Linked DNA regions of Homo sapiens. The protein of the gene in region 3 interacts with the protein of the main gene of each other region in a pairwise test. Each region holds a gene or a part of one and is shown on either strand. Other genes may lie near its edges. The genes, in order: PLP1, STRIT1 and SPNS3.

Evidence for each region.
Region 1: the proteins of SPNS3 (region 3) and PLP1 interact in binary tests that used the Homo sapiens proteins (3 or more experiments, as listed by UniProt).
Region 2: the proteins of SPNS3 (region 3) and STRIT1 interact in binary tests that used the Homo sapiens proteins (3 or more experiments, as listed by UniProt).

Annotation. Positions count from the first base shown.
Region 1 is NC_000023.11:103,783,188-103,786,839, reverse strand, and holds part of PLP1 (myelin proteolipid protein), read right to left. Parts: intron 1,259-3,652; coding exon 1,072-1,258; intron 376-1,071; coding exon 114-375; intron 1-113.
Region 2 is NC_000003.12:155,291,507-155,295,258, forward strand, and holds the start of STRIT1 (sarcoplasmic/endoplasmic reticulum calcium ATPase regulator DWORF), read right to left. Parts: upstream 2,178-3,752; 5' UTR 2,127-2,177; coding exon 2,114-2,126; intron 1-2,113.
Region 3 is NC_000017.11:4,432,288-4,436,039, reverse strand, and holds the start of SPNS3 (protein spinster homolog 3), read right to left. Parts: upstream 2,101-3,752; 5' UTR 2,073-2,100; coding exon 1,874-2,072; intron 1-1,873. UniProt on the Homo sapiens protein: Sphingolipid transporter.

The DNA.
Region 1 (3,652 bases), on a different chromosome or scaffold from region 3:
TCAAATGCCAGGCCCCTAGAGAGGACCCAGCCTTGGGTGGGGACGAGGCCACAGACTCGCGCCCAATTTTCCCCCACCCCTTGTTATTGCCACAAAATCCTGAGGATGATCACCTTGTCGGGATGTCCTAGCCATTTTCCCAAACAATGACACACCCGCTCCAAAGAATGAGCTTGATGTTGGCCTCTGGAACCCCTCCCCTTCTGGCCCCCTGTTACCGTTGCGCTCAGGCCCTTGCCGCAGATGGTGGTCTTGTAGTCGCCAAAGATCTGCCTGACTGCGCCGGTGGTGTAGAAGCCCTCAGCCAGCAGGAGGGCCCCATAAAGGAAGAAGAAAGAGGCAGTTCCATAGATGACATACTGGAAGGCATGGATCCTGCATTAACAGGTAGACAAACGAGACCAGGGAATCTTATTAATTGAAGACCTGGCTTCTTTCCCGACATAAGTGAGGTATACACCAGAGCGAGCACCTTAACAAGGCTAGGGATTTTCTAGAGGAATCACCAGGTTCCTCCTGCATGCTTTCACCTTATCTTTGTTGAAATAAGTGAAGACAGGGTGTATGTGACCAGAAACATATGCCCCTCCCGCCACACCTTGCTTACCCTGGGACCTGGAGAACCAGGGACCTACTCTCCCTGCCCCACCCTTCAGACATGCTAACTCACAGGAGTAGGGAGCTAGACAAGAAGAAAGGTGGGTGAAGGAACAGGAGCCTAACTTGTTCTAGGAACAGGAGAGGCTTAGTGCCTCCCTTGGCTTCTCCATACCTACTACGCTGGAGGCTCCAACTTGGGCAATATGAACCACACCTAGCAGAAGTCAGAACACGTGTAAGAAAACAAGGGGGCGGGGGTGGGAGGGGCTGACAGGCAGGCAGGCAGACCCCTCCTTTCTGAATGGGCTTCGAATGTGGAGCAGGAGAGATCTGCACAGAGGGAAGACTCGGGAATCCGGTCTGGCTCCACCCCAGTCCCCTGCTAGTTACTAAGGTACTGAAGAGTTCTCTATCTCCAGGATGGAGAGAGGGAAAAAAAAGATGGGTCTGTGTGGGAGGGCAGGTACTTACACATTGATGAGATACTCATAGTCTTGGTAGTTTTTGGAGAAATAGGTCTCAATTAGCTTTTCTGTGCCAGTGAGGGCTTCATGTCCACAGCCACAGAACAGTGCCACCCCAAAGAAACACAATCCAGTGGCCACCAGGGAAGCAAAGGGGGCCCCTACCAGACATCTTGCACAGCACTCTAACAAGCCTGGGGAAGAAGAAGGGGAAACAGTCAGGCACATCCAGTAGGTAGCTCATGCCACTCAAACCCCTCTGCCAGGCCCTGTGCTCACAGGCTCGGAGATAGTGGGCACTCCGAAGTCAAAAAGCAGGAGCGGCTAGAGGTTTTGGCTTTCAGCATGTGAGATTGACCCAGAATCCTTACTTTGTTTCATTCTTGAAAATAAATCTTTGGCCGGGCACGGTGGCTCATGCCTGTAATCCCAGCACTTTGGGAGGCTGAGGCAGGTGGATCACATGAGGTCAGGAGTTCAAGACCAGCCTGGCCAACATGGCAAAACCCCGTCTCTACTAAAAATACAAAAATTAGCCGGGCATGGGCGTATGCCTGTAATCCCAGCTACTCAGGAGGCTGAGACAGGAGAATCTGTTAAACCCAGGAGGAGGCGGAGGTTGCCGTGAGCCAAGATTGCGCCATTGTACTCCAGCCTGGGCAGTAAGAGCGAGACTCTGTCTCAAGAAAAAAAAAAAGAAAGAAAGAAAATAAATCCTTACCTTTTATTGCCAGAATTTAAAAAATATTTAATAAATAATAATAATTCAGCAATTCAAATAGCAAGCCAGAGAGATTATGAAATCAGTCCCTTCTTTCTTATTGTTCTAGTCTGTTTGTTTGCTTGCTTATTTTAGTCATTCATCAACTATTTATGGAATACTCACTATATGCCCAGCATTATGCTGGGTGTTATACGGGATATGAAGAGAGAAAAGACACAGACTCTGCCATATGGGAGTCTTTAATTTCCTGAGGAAGAATTAGCTAAGTAGACCTAATATTTTCAACTAACAATTCAGGCAGCCAAGTAAGTGGTAACAGAGGGTAAATGCACTTGGAGTTCCAGGAAGGGATGAGTGCAGGCCAGAGATGCTGGTATTGTCAGACAGGATTTTAGCATGAAGAGCATTCCAGGTGGAGGAAACTTTGGAAATTGGATGCTCCTGGACATTTTTGAGCATCGTGTGTATTTGTTGCAAAGAATGCTTGATTCTTCTTAGTTTACATATGGGAGGAGCAGTCCAAACAGGATGGAGCTAGCACAGGACAAGAAATGAAAATTGGAAAATAGGAGGTTTGATATTACTCCCAATAATAAAAATGCAGGCTTAATGATTTTGGACACTTTGTATGGCAGTTTTGTCCTCCTATAATGCAGCTTGGCTAATGTCCCCACCCTCAGTTATACGCTGAGATTCTGTCAAAACAGCTACAAACAGACTTTATACAAAGTCAGCAAAGCATGAAACATCTTTCTGGCACTAGAGGAACACACCAGGGCCTGGGAACACATGTGTCTTAAAGTGCTAAGAGTCCCTGAGATCCCCAGACCTGGTATCCCAGGCCCTATGCCAGTGTTGCTGAGAAACAGGAGAGGCACACAAGAAGTCACAGGCTCTGAAAGCAGCTGTGTTCCAAGTACTAGTCCCATGCTCTAAGATGTCATATGGAGTGAACCTTAGCAAATGCCAAGTAGATGACTGACTAGATGAGGAAAAGAATGGCTTCCTCTGGCCTCTCGGCCAGATCCCTAAAATGTAGAAGAAATGAGAATGTTAAGCTCTTCAGAAAAAATGTCTTAATTCATATGTATGTATATATATAAATATATGTATATATACCCACTGATTTTATATATCTATAAACACAGTATACACATGCACACACACAAATACTCAGCAAATGTACTGGGAAGCTGCTATTTTTGAATAAGCAGGTTGTGACAGCTTGTACAATAAAAATAAATTGTATTAATTACTTAGGCTTGGATTTTTGTATTCAAGCATTTCTCCAAGCCACACTCACTTTTCTATAGGGTACCAGGGAAAGGGGACTCCTTTTCCTGATTCTGTTAACATTAGTTACAGTTTGTTTTTAGCCCAGAGAGCATGAATACCTAGTGATTTACATGGCTGAATTGCATCAGTGTGAACAGATTTGGAAAGATCAAATTATCTCTGTCATGGGAAAATCGAGGTAGAGGCATTTGCCTCTGTTCTCAGAGACACAAAAGGAGTGAGTCCTATTACCCACCATCCCCTGAAATGACAGCCCTTTCTTGGCCTTCAAAGAGTGTCACACCAAAGATGAGCCTCAGAAGCCCAAGCCAAACAAAGTAAGCAGCTAACATTTGGAGCAGAACTTCCTTTTCCAAGAACTAAAGCATTGCTGCCAGGAAACTTGGCCTCTATAAGAAGCAATCTGTAGCTGTGCTGCTGTGAGTGGAGGCTGAGTTTACTCAGCATGAACTTTGCAAACGTGCTTGGGAAGAGTGTCTTTTCAGAGCTGGCCCATGGGTGTGTCTGTGTGTGTGCACACGCACATGCATGCATGTGTACAAATGTGCACATACACACATGTATACCA
Region 2 (3,752 bases), on a different chromosome or scaffold from region 3:
ATAATTATAACACAAGGAAAGGTATTGAGAACTGTCCTTGGCCTCAATAGCTGAATGTAATTTTAAATATCACAGGGAAAAGGAAAGTATCATACATTATGTAACCATTCTTGACTACAGAAAAGAATTTCTATTGTTTAAAAATTGTTCAGTATAACAACCAGCACTGAACCTGAATCAATGGGCAGTAATAATCCAACACACACATAAATGGCGTTTGTTATATATGATTCCTTCTGTGCCTCCTATTTGTACTCTTACCTGTAAAAAGCAATTTATACAAGTATCTTTTTTAAAGTATGCACTGCATGTAACTCTTGTTCTTTCAAGCAAACATACACAGGCATACACACAGAAATCCACACCTACATCACACAAAAAGATTTAGAAAGAGCGCAGAAAAACATTCTATGGAATTAATGTCCCTGTGTTAAGGACTCAGATATATTCTTAACTGCAAAGCATAATTAGATCTTATGCCATTAGTTAAAAGAGAGAATGCATATTCTTAGCAATTATACTCCTATTACAATTTCCATCACTTTAAAATGTGAAATTTTTAAAAATGCTATTAAAATAAAATCATCAGGAGATGAGACACATTTAAAATTAGAAGACACTTTTATAAAAGCAAACTTTCTGAAGTTGAAATAAATTTTAATACTTTAAATCAATTTTTCCAAGAATGCTAGAGTCTCTCTTAACTGACAAAATTCAACATGCTTTTCTTGTTTCTCCATCTCACTGTGACCTTGTATAAGGCATTAAGCACTAAATGGAAAACTCTTCTCTTTACTTGACATGTGGTATTGCTTAAGGATAAAGCAAACAACATGAGTTGCCCTTTACTCTCATTTGGACGAAAGCCTTTTTATGAATTAAGGTACCATTACAATGGAAGTACATAGCAGTAATTTTTTTGAACTGTCTAGGTATGTGGCTTTATATTTTTCCCAATTTCAAAGAATTTGAAAATTAATATTAACCCTTTAATTGTGCATTTATATTTTATACATGCATATTTTAATAAAATTTACATATCACAAAGCCCTAAAAGTATCTCATTATTTACTTTCCTTGTAAAATAGTACCAGTAGCACTAACTGTGCATTTTAACACCCAAAGTATACATTCCATTGTTTTTTTAACACTAATGTTTTCAACTTTACTAATACCTGTGGAATTGTTTGGAAGTAGAAATACGTAAGAGCACAACATACTTTGCATATGTCACTTACATTACTAGCACAAATAAGAACAAAACATCTCTTAAACATGAAGTGTAATTCTAAAATGCTTCTCTCTTGTCCAGTTCTGAGCATATCAAAGTAGTTACAGCTGGAAGTGTTCTTGAGGACACTGTGCTCTGGAAAAGACTGTCCAGGTTAAACACCTGGTGCCACCACTCTTTAGCGATCATGAACAAGTTACTAAACTGCTGTGTCTCCATTTTCTTATCTATAAAATGGGGATGATGATGATATGCATATTTCACAAGGTCATTGTCAAGATTCAAAGCAAAAATTCCTGTTTAATATTTAAAAACCATTTCTTAGATACAGTATATATTCAACTTTTTGACAAATTGGAATCAATTATTTTATATAACTATAAAATATAAATACAAAAAAATGTTTAAAAACCAGAAAAAAGTTAGATGTGGAACAAAAATTTTAGGTGTGGAATAGATGCCTGAGCCCAATATTCTCATTTTACTGTCAGAAAACAGACTCAGAGAGGTATAGGGACTTCTGCAAACTCACATAGCCATTTACTAGCAGGTCTGACACAGAACTTAACTGTCTTCAATTCTGGCTCAGAATTGAAATCAGGAGAACTGATTTCTAACTCACCTTTCAAAATAAGTATTAACAAAATTAAGCTCTTTTCCTTTGTTGATCATTTTAAAATTATTCATAACCTATAGACCTGATCCATAGATTACATAATTAATGCATTTTTGCAGCCACACTAACATATATGGTTAATGGTCATTTAGCATAGATATCACATTTTTTAGAGTGACTGGGAAACACCAAGAAACATAAATGAACCAAAGTCAAGAAGCCTTTTTTTTTTTTTTGCCAAGAGAATCCTATGCCTTAAATCTTACCTTTTTCAGCCATTATTCCTGTTGGTGGGTGGCTAGGTCAGGCCACGCTTACCTCTTTCTTTTGTTATCCAGCGTCTCTTTGAACTTTAAATAGAGAGAAATCTGAAGATTGCGGCAGCTGCCCGTCTCCTGGCTGCCAATTGTCTGCAGAGTGATGTAAGTCATGGGAAAGCAGAACTCCTCTGGCTCTTTATTCTATTATTATGGAGGAAACGAGGGGCTACATGACCTAAACAATTAGGTAAGCTGAATTATCCTAATGCAGATATTCGCAGGTTTTTAATTTGCACCATGCCTTTAGGTAACATGAAGAAAATGTTCTATAAAGAAGGTGTACAGAGGAAAAACAACATTCCACCTATACAAGTGCTATCAAGGAGAAGGGTGATATATTAGAAAGAAAGGATTTTGATGTTGGAGAGACTTGGGTTCAAATTCCAGCTCTTTCTGTAATGAAAGCCAAGTTGCTTAACCTGGGAATCAGCTTCTTTAGTTTTAAAATGAGGATAATAATACCTACTCATGGGAGTCGCATAAAGATGAAATGAAAGTCTGTATGAAATGTAGACAGTTCTTTATTACTTTACAGGTGGAAAACATAAAATGAAATGGTGCCCCTTTCTTTGAACTATTCTAAAACAAAAAGTGTTAATATAAATGTACTAGAAACTAAAACAATACAGACGTCGCCTAGAATTTTTAGGAAGCAGTCATAAGCTTGTTGTTTTTATTAGCAATGTATAAAAATAGGACATTTCATTTTTCAAAGTCCAAACTGGTTTATGTAACTGACCTAGACTATTCTCTATATTCTCATTGGAATAACTTTAAATTGGGGATCTGGCTGGAAAAGTTTTGCAGAGTGACCCTGTGAGCATCTTCCCAAAAAAAATTTGACATAAGATTAAGACCTGTAAAGGCAGGTCTGGCCTGATCAAATTTATCTCCACAGAGTTCCAAGAGTGATATTGCCTTGCAAATGACCATGTTCCATCACTGCTCAAAAATCCACCAATAGTTCTTCATCTCCTAGACAATAAAAATCCCAACTCTTTGTTTAGACACCTAAAAACCCTTATTTCTCTACTCTTCCATTTGCAGTGATAACTTCAGTGACACTGAACTCCTTGCTATTATATGAATTCAGAATCCTCCCACTCTCACAGGCAAGAAGAACATTTGACTTTCTACCTCAAATAATGTACCTATAGATTAGAGTGTGCAGCCAAGAATCTGGCACATTTATATCATTTATGTCAAGTTGTCATCTCTCTCCTCAGTCTCTCTCTCAATATATTATTTAATATTGAAAAAATGTCTGGCTATGTCAGGTAAGCAGAAAAACTACGTATTGTTTATGCAACAAAATCCCTTGCTTACCTGGCAAAGTTGGGTATTTTTTTCAATATTAAATAATAATACGTTAAACAAAGGTTAACTGAGGCCAAAAGAGAGAGAAGAAATAAAAATGTTATTGATCTCATTTAAATATAAAAAATGTTAATTCAGTAAGTTCAAATGAACACTAATTATCTTAAGGAAAAAAATGATATTTAAAACAAACAGTGTGGTACCCACAAAGAGCACAAACATACATAATAAAATAAAATAATTTGCCTGAAACATATGAAAAGGTTTC
Region 3 (3,752 bases):
GGGTCCTGCCCACAGTTAGTGCTCAGCCGGTCTTGAATGAATGAATGACAAGAAGAGAAGAGCAAGTGGAGCCTCAATCAGCTGTTGTTATTGTTGTTGTCTTTGTTTGAGACGGAGTCTCGCTCTGTCGCCCAGGCTGGAGTGCAGTGGCACGATCTCAGCTCACCGCAACCTCCGCCTCCCGGGTTCAAGCGACTGTCCTGCCTCAGCCTCCCGAGTAGCTGGGATTACAGGCGTGAGCCACCACGCCTGGCCCCTGATCAGTCTTGAATGAATGAATGAGTGAGTGAGTTAGTGAATGAGTGACAGAAGACAGAGCAGGTTGAGCCCTGAAGCCTGCAAGAAGGAAGGCAGGACGTGTGAGGTTTGCGAGCAGCCTGTTGTCCTAGAAACACAGCCAGCAGGAGCTATTCTTGTCTGGCCCAGGCTACCCTGTCCTCCACCTAGAACCTGGGGGCCTCTGCCTGGAAGTCCTGCCTGCTGTCCTCACCCACCCACCCCTCATTATGTCTCTGGCCCCACCCCCACTGTGCCCTCCCTTAATTTTTAAAAAATATTTATTTATTTATTTATTTTTTATTTTTTATTTTTTTTTTTTTGAGACAGAGCCTTGCTCTGTCGCCCAGACTGGAGTGCAATGGTGGGATCTTGGCTCAATGGTGGGATCTCGGCTCACTGCAACATCCACCTCCCAGGTTCAAGCAATTCTCTGCCTCAGCCTCCCCAGTAGCTGAGATTACAGGTGCCCGCTACCATGCTCGGCTAATTTTTGTAGTTTTAGTAGAGACGGGGTTTCACCATGTTGCCCAGGCTGGTCACAAAGTCCTCACTTCAAGTGATCCGCCCACCTTGGCCTCCCACAGTGCTGGGATTACAGGCCTGAGCCACCGCACCCAGCCCTAAAATATTTTTAATTTTTTAAATAGAGACAGAGTTTCGGCTGGGCGCAGGGGCTCATGCCTATAATCCCAACACTTTGGGAGGCCGAGGCAGGCGGATCACCTGAGGTCTGGAGTTCGAGACAGCCTGGCATACACGGCAAAACCCCGTCTCTACTAAAAATACAAAAACTAGCCTGGCATGGTGGTATGCGCCTGTAGTCCCAGCTACTCGGGAGGCTGAGATAGGAATCGCTTGAACCTGGGAGGCAGAAGTTGCAGTGAGCCGAGATCGCGCCACTGCACTCCAGCCTGGGCAACAGATTGAGACTCTGTCTCAAGAAAAAAAAAAAAGGCCGGGCACGGTGGCTCATGCCTGTAATCCCAGCACTTTGGGAGGCCGAGGCGGGTGGATCACCTGAGGTCAGGAGTTCGAGACCAGCCTGACTAGCATGGTAAAACCCCGTCCCTACTCCTCCTCTACTCAAAATACAAAAATTAGCCGGATGTGGTGGTGCACGCCTGTAATCCCAGCTACTCGGGAGGCTGAGGCAGGAGAATCACTTGAACCTGGGAGACAGAGGTTGCAGTGAGCTGAGATTGCGCCACTACACTCCAGCCTGGGCGACAGAGCGAGACTCTGTCTCAAAAAAAAAAATAAATAAATAGAGACAGAGTCTCACTATGTTGTCCAGGTTGGTCTCAAACTCCTGGGCTCAAGCAATCTTCCTGCCTCAGCCTCCCAAAGTGCTGGAATTACAAGCGGGAGCCACCATGCCCAGCCTGTGTCCCTTCTTAGTTGAGGCTGGATTGGGAACATCAGTTGGTCCTCCCCGATTCGAGCACAGCTGAAAACCACCTCTAGAGGTGAGAACACCAGAGATGGGCCCAGGAGCAGAAAGATGGGTGATGGCTGGAAGGCCACCATGGATCTGCAGCCCCTGGCTGGTGGGCACAGCAGCAGGTACTGCCCAGGGTAGCCATCCCCTCCTCACCTGCAATGATGAACCAGTTCATGTAATTCAGGAGGTTGATGTAGCAGAGGACGGCGGCAGCCACGTAGGCCCTCCACGGGGGCAGGCTCCAGGAGGTGGGCGTGATGGGAGGGGGACACTGCCTGCCTGGCCCTGGGGACTGGCCCTGCAGACCTCCTGGCCCAGGCTCAGGGCACTCCGCTGACATCCCCCCAGCCATGCCAGCCTGCAGCTCTTGGCCTGAGACTGGCGCCAGGATGAAGCAACATTAGCTCAGCACGAAGTCACTTCCTGTGGGGTCCCAGGCTCCAAACCTCAAAGCACCTGCCCTAACTGTTGGGCGTCTTATCGCAGGTTCCTCCTGACCCCACGGCAGCTTCACCAGTGCGATTTCCCCATCGTCAGCCTCTGAGACCTGCTACGGAGGACAAGGGCTCCTGGCACCCCCACCCTGGGGACTGGACAACTCTGTGGTCCCCTTGATCTAGCCTGCAGCTTCAGTGGCTGCAGTGAGGAAGGGAAGCTTCCAGGGCAGGAAATGAGATGAGCCTCCCAGAGTGCTGCTTGCTGTGAGATGGTCTAGCTGCCCGTACGGGACTGTGAACCAATGCCTTGAAGCCGGGGCAAATGAGGAAGGCTGGGCATTGGCCAGGACAGCAGCATTGCACTCGACTGCCAGGCAGGATGAGCACCTACCCAGGATCTAAGGTCCTTCCCGGAAAAACAAAGGTAGCAGAGGGGGCTGCCTACAAGAAGACAGCCTGTGTGCAAAACTCATCAGTGGGGGCTAAATCTGGGGGGAAGACTTCAGTGAGGGGGGAGGGTGTCAGCACGGTCACGAAGCATCTCTTGATAGATTGCTTATTAGTAACAAAAGGAAAAAGAGTAACTATACAGTAGAGGAATCAGACATCTTGACCAAGGGGTTAAAATAAATCACCTGTGAGAGGCAGGAGGGTGTCGTGTGCCTCCAGATGTGAAGGTCTTCGCAGGTCACAGCATCATCTATGTGGCATTCCAGCCAGGAAGGCACAACCGGAATCTCATCATGAGAAGACATCAGCCAGACGCGGTGGCTCGCACCTGTAATCCTAACACTGGGAGGCCAAGACAGGAGGATCATCCAAGCCCAGAAGTTTGTGACCAGCCTGGGCAACATGGTGAAACCCCATTGCTACAAAAATACCAAAAAAATAAAAAATTTTAAAAAAAAATAGCCGGGTGTAGTGGTGTGCGTCCACAGTCCCAGCTACTTGGGAGGCTGAGGTAGGAAGGATCGCCTTAGCCTGGGAAGTCGAGGCTGCAGTGAGCCATGTTCGTGCCACTGCACTCCAGGCTGGGTGACAAAGCAAGACCCCAACTCAAAAAAAAAAATTTTTTTTTTAATTTTTAAAATGAAAAAACATCAGACAAGCCCAAATTGAGAAACACTATTTCTTTAAAGGGACTGTATATTGAAAAATGTCAGAGTCATGAAAGACTAAGAAAGACTGAGGGAGCTAGGCGTGGTGGCTCACGCTTGTTATCCCAGCACTTTGGGAGGCCGAGGCAGGTGGATCACCTGAGGTCGGGAGTTCAAGATCAGCCTGACCAATGTGGAGAAACCCCGTCTCTACTAAAAATACAAAACTAACTAGGCATGGTGGCAGGTGCCTGTAATCTCAGCTACTCGGGAGGCTGAGGCAGGAGAATTGCTTGAACCCGGGAGGCACAGGTTGTGGTGAGCCAAGATCACGCCATTACACTCCAGCCTGGGCAACAAGAGCAAAACTCTGTCTCGAAAAAAAAAAAATATTCTGAGGGACTGTTTTGGATTAAAAGCAACAAAGAGACAAGATAGGCCAGGCGCGGTGGCTCATGCCTGTAATCCCAGCACTTTGGGAGGCCCAGGCGGGCGGAT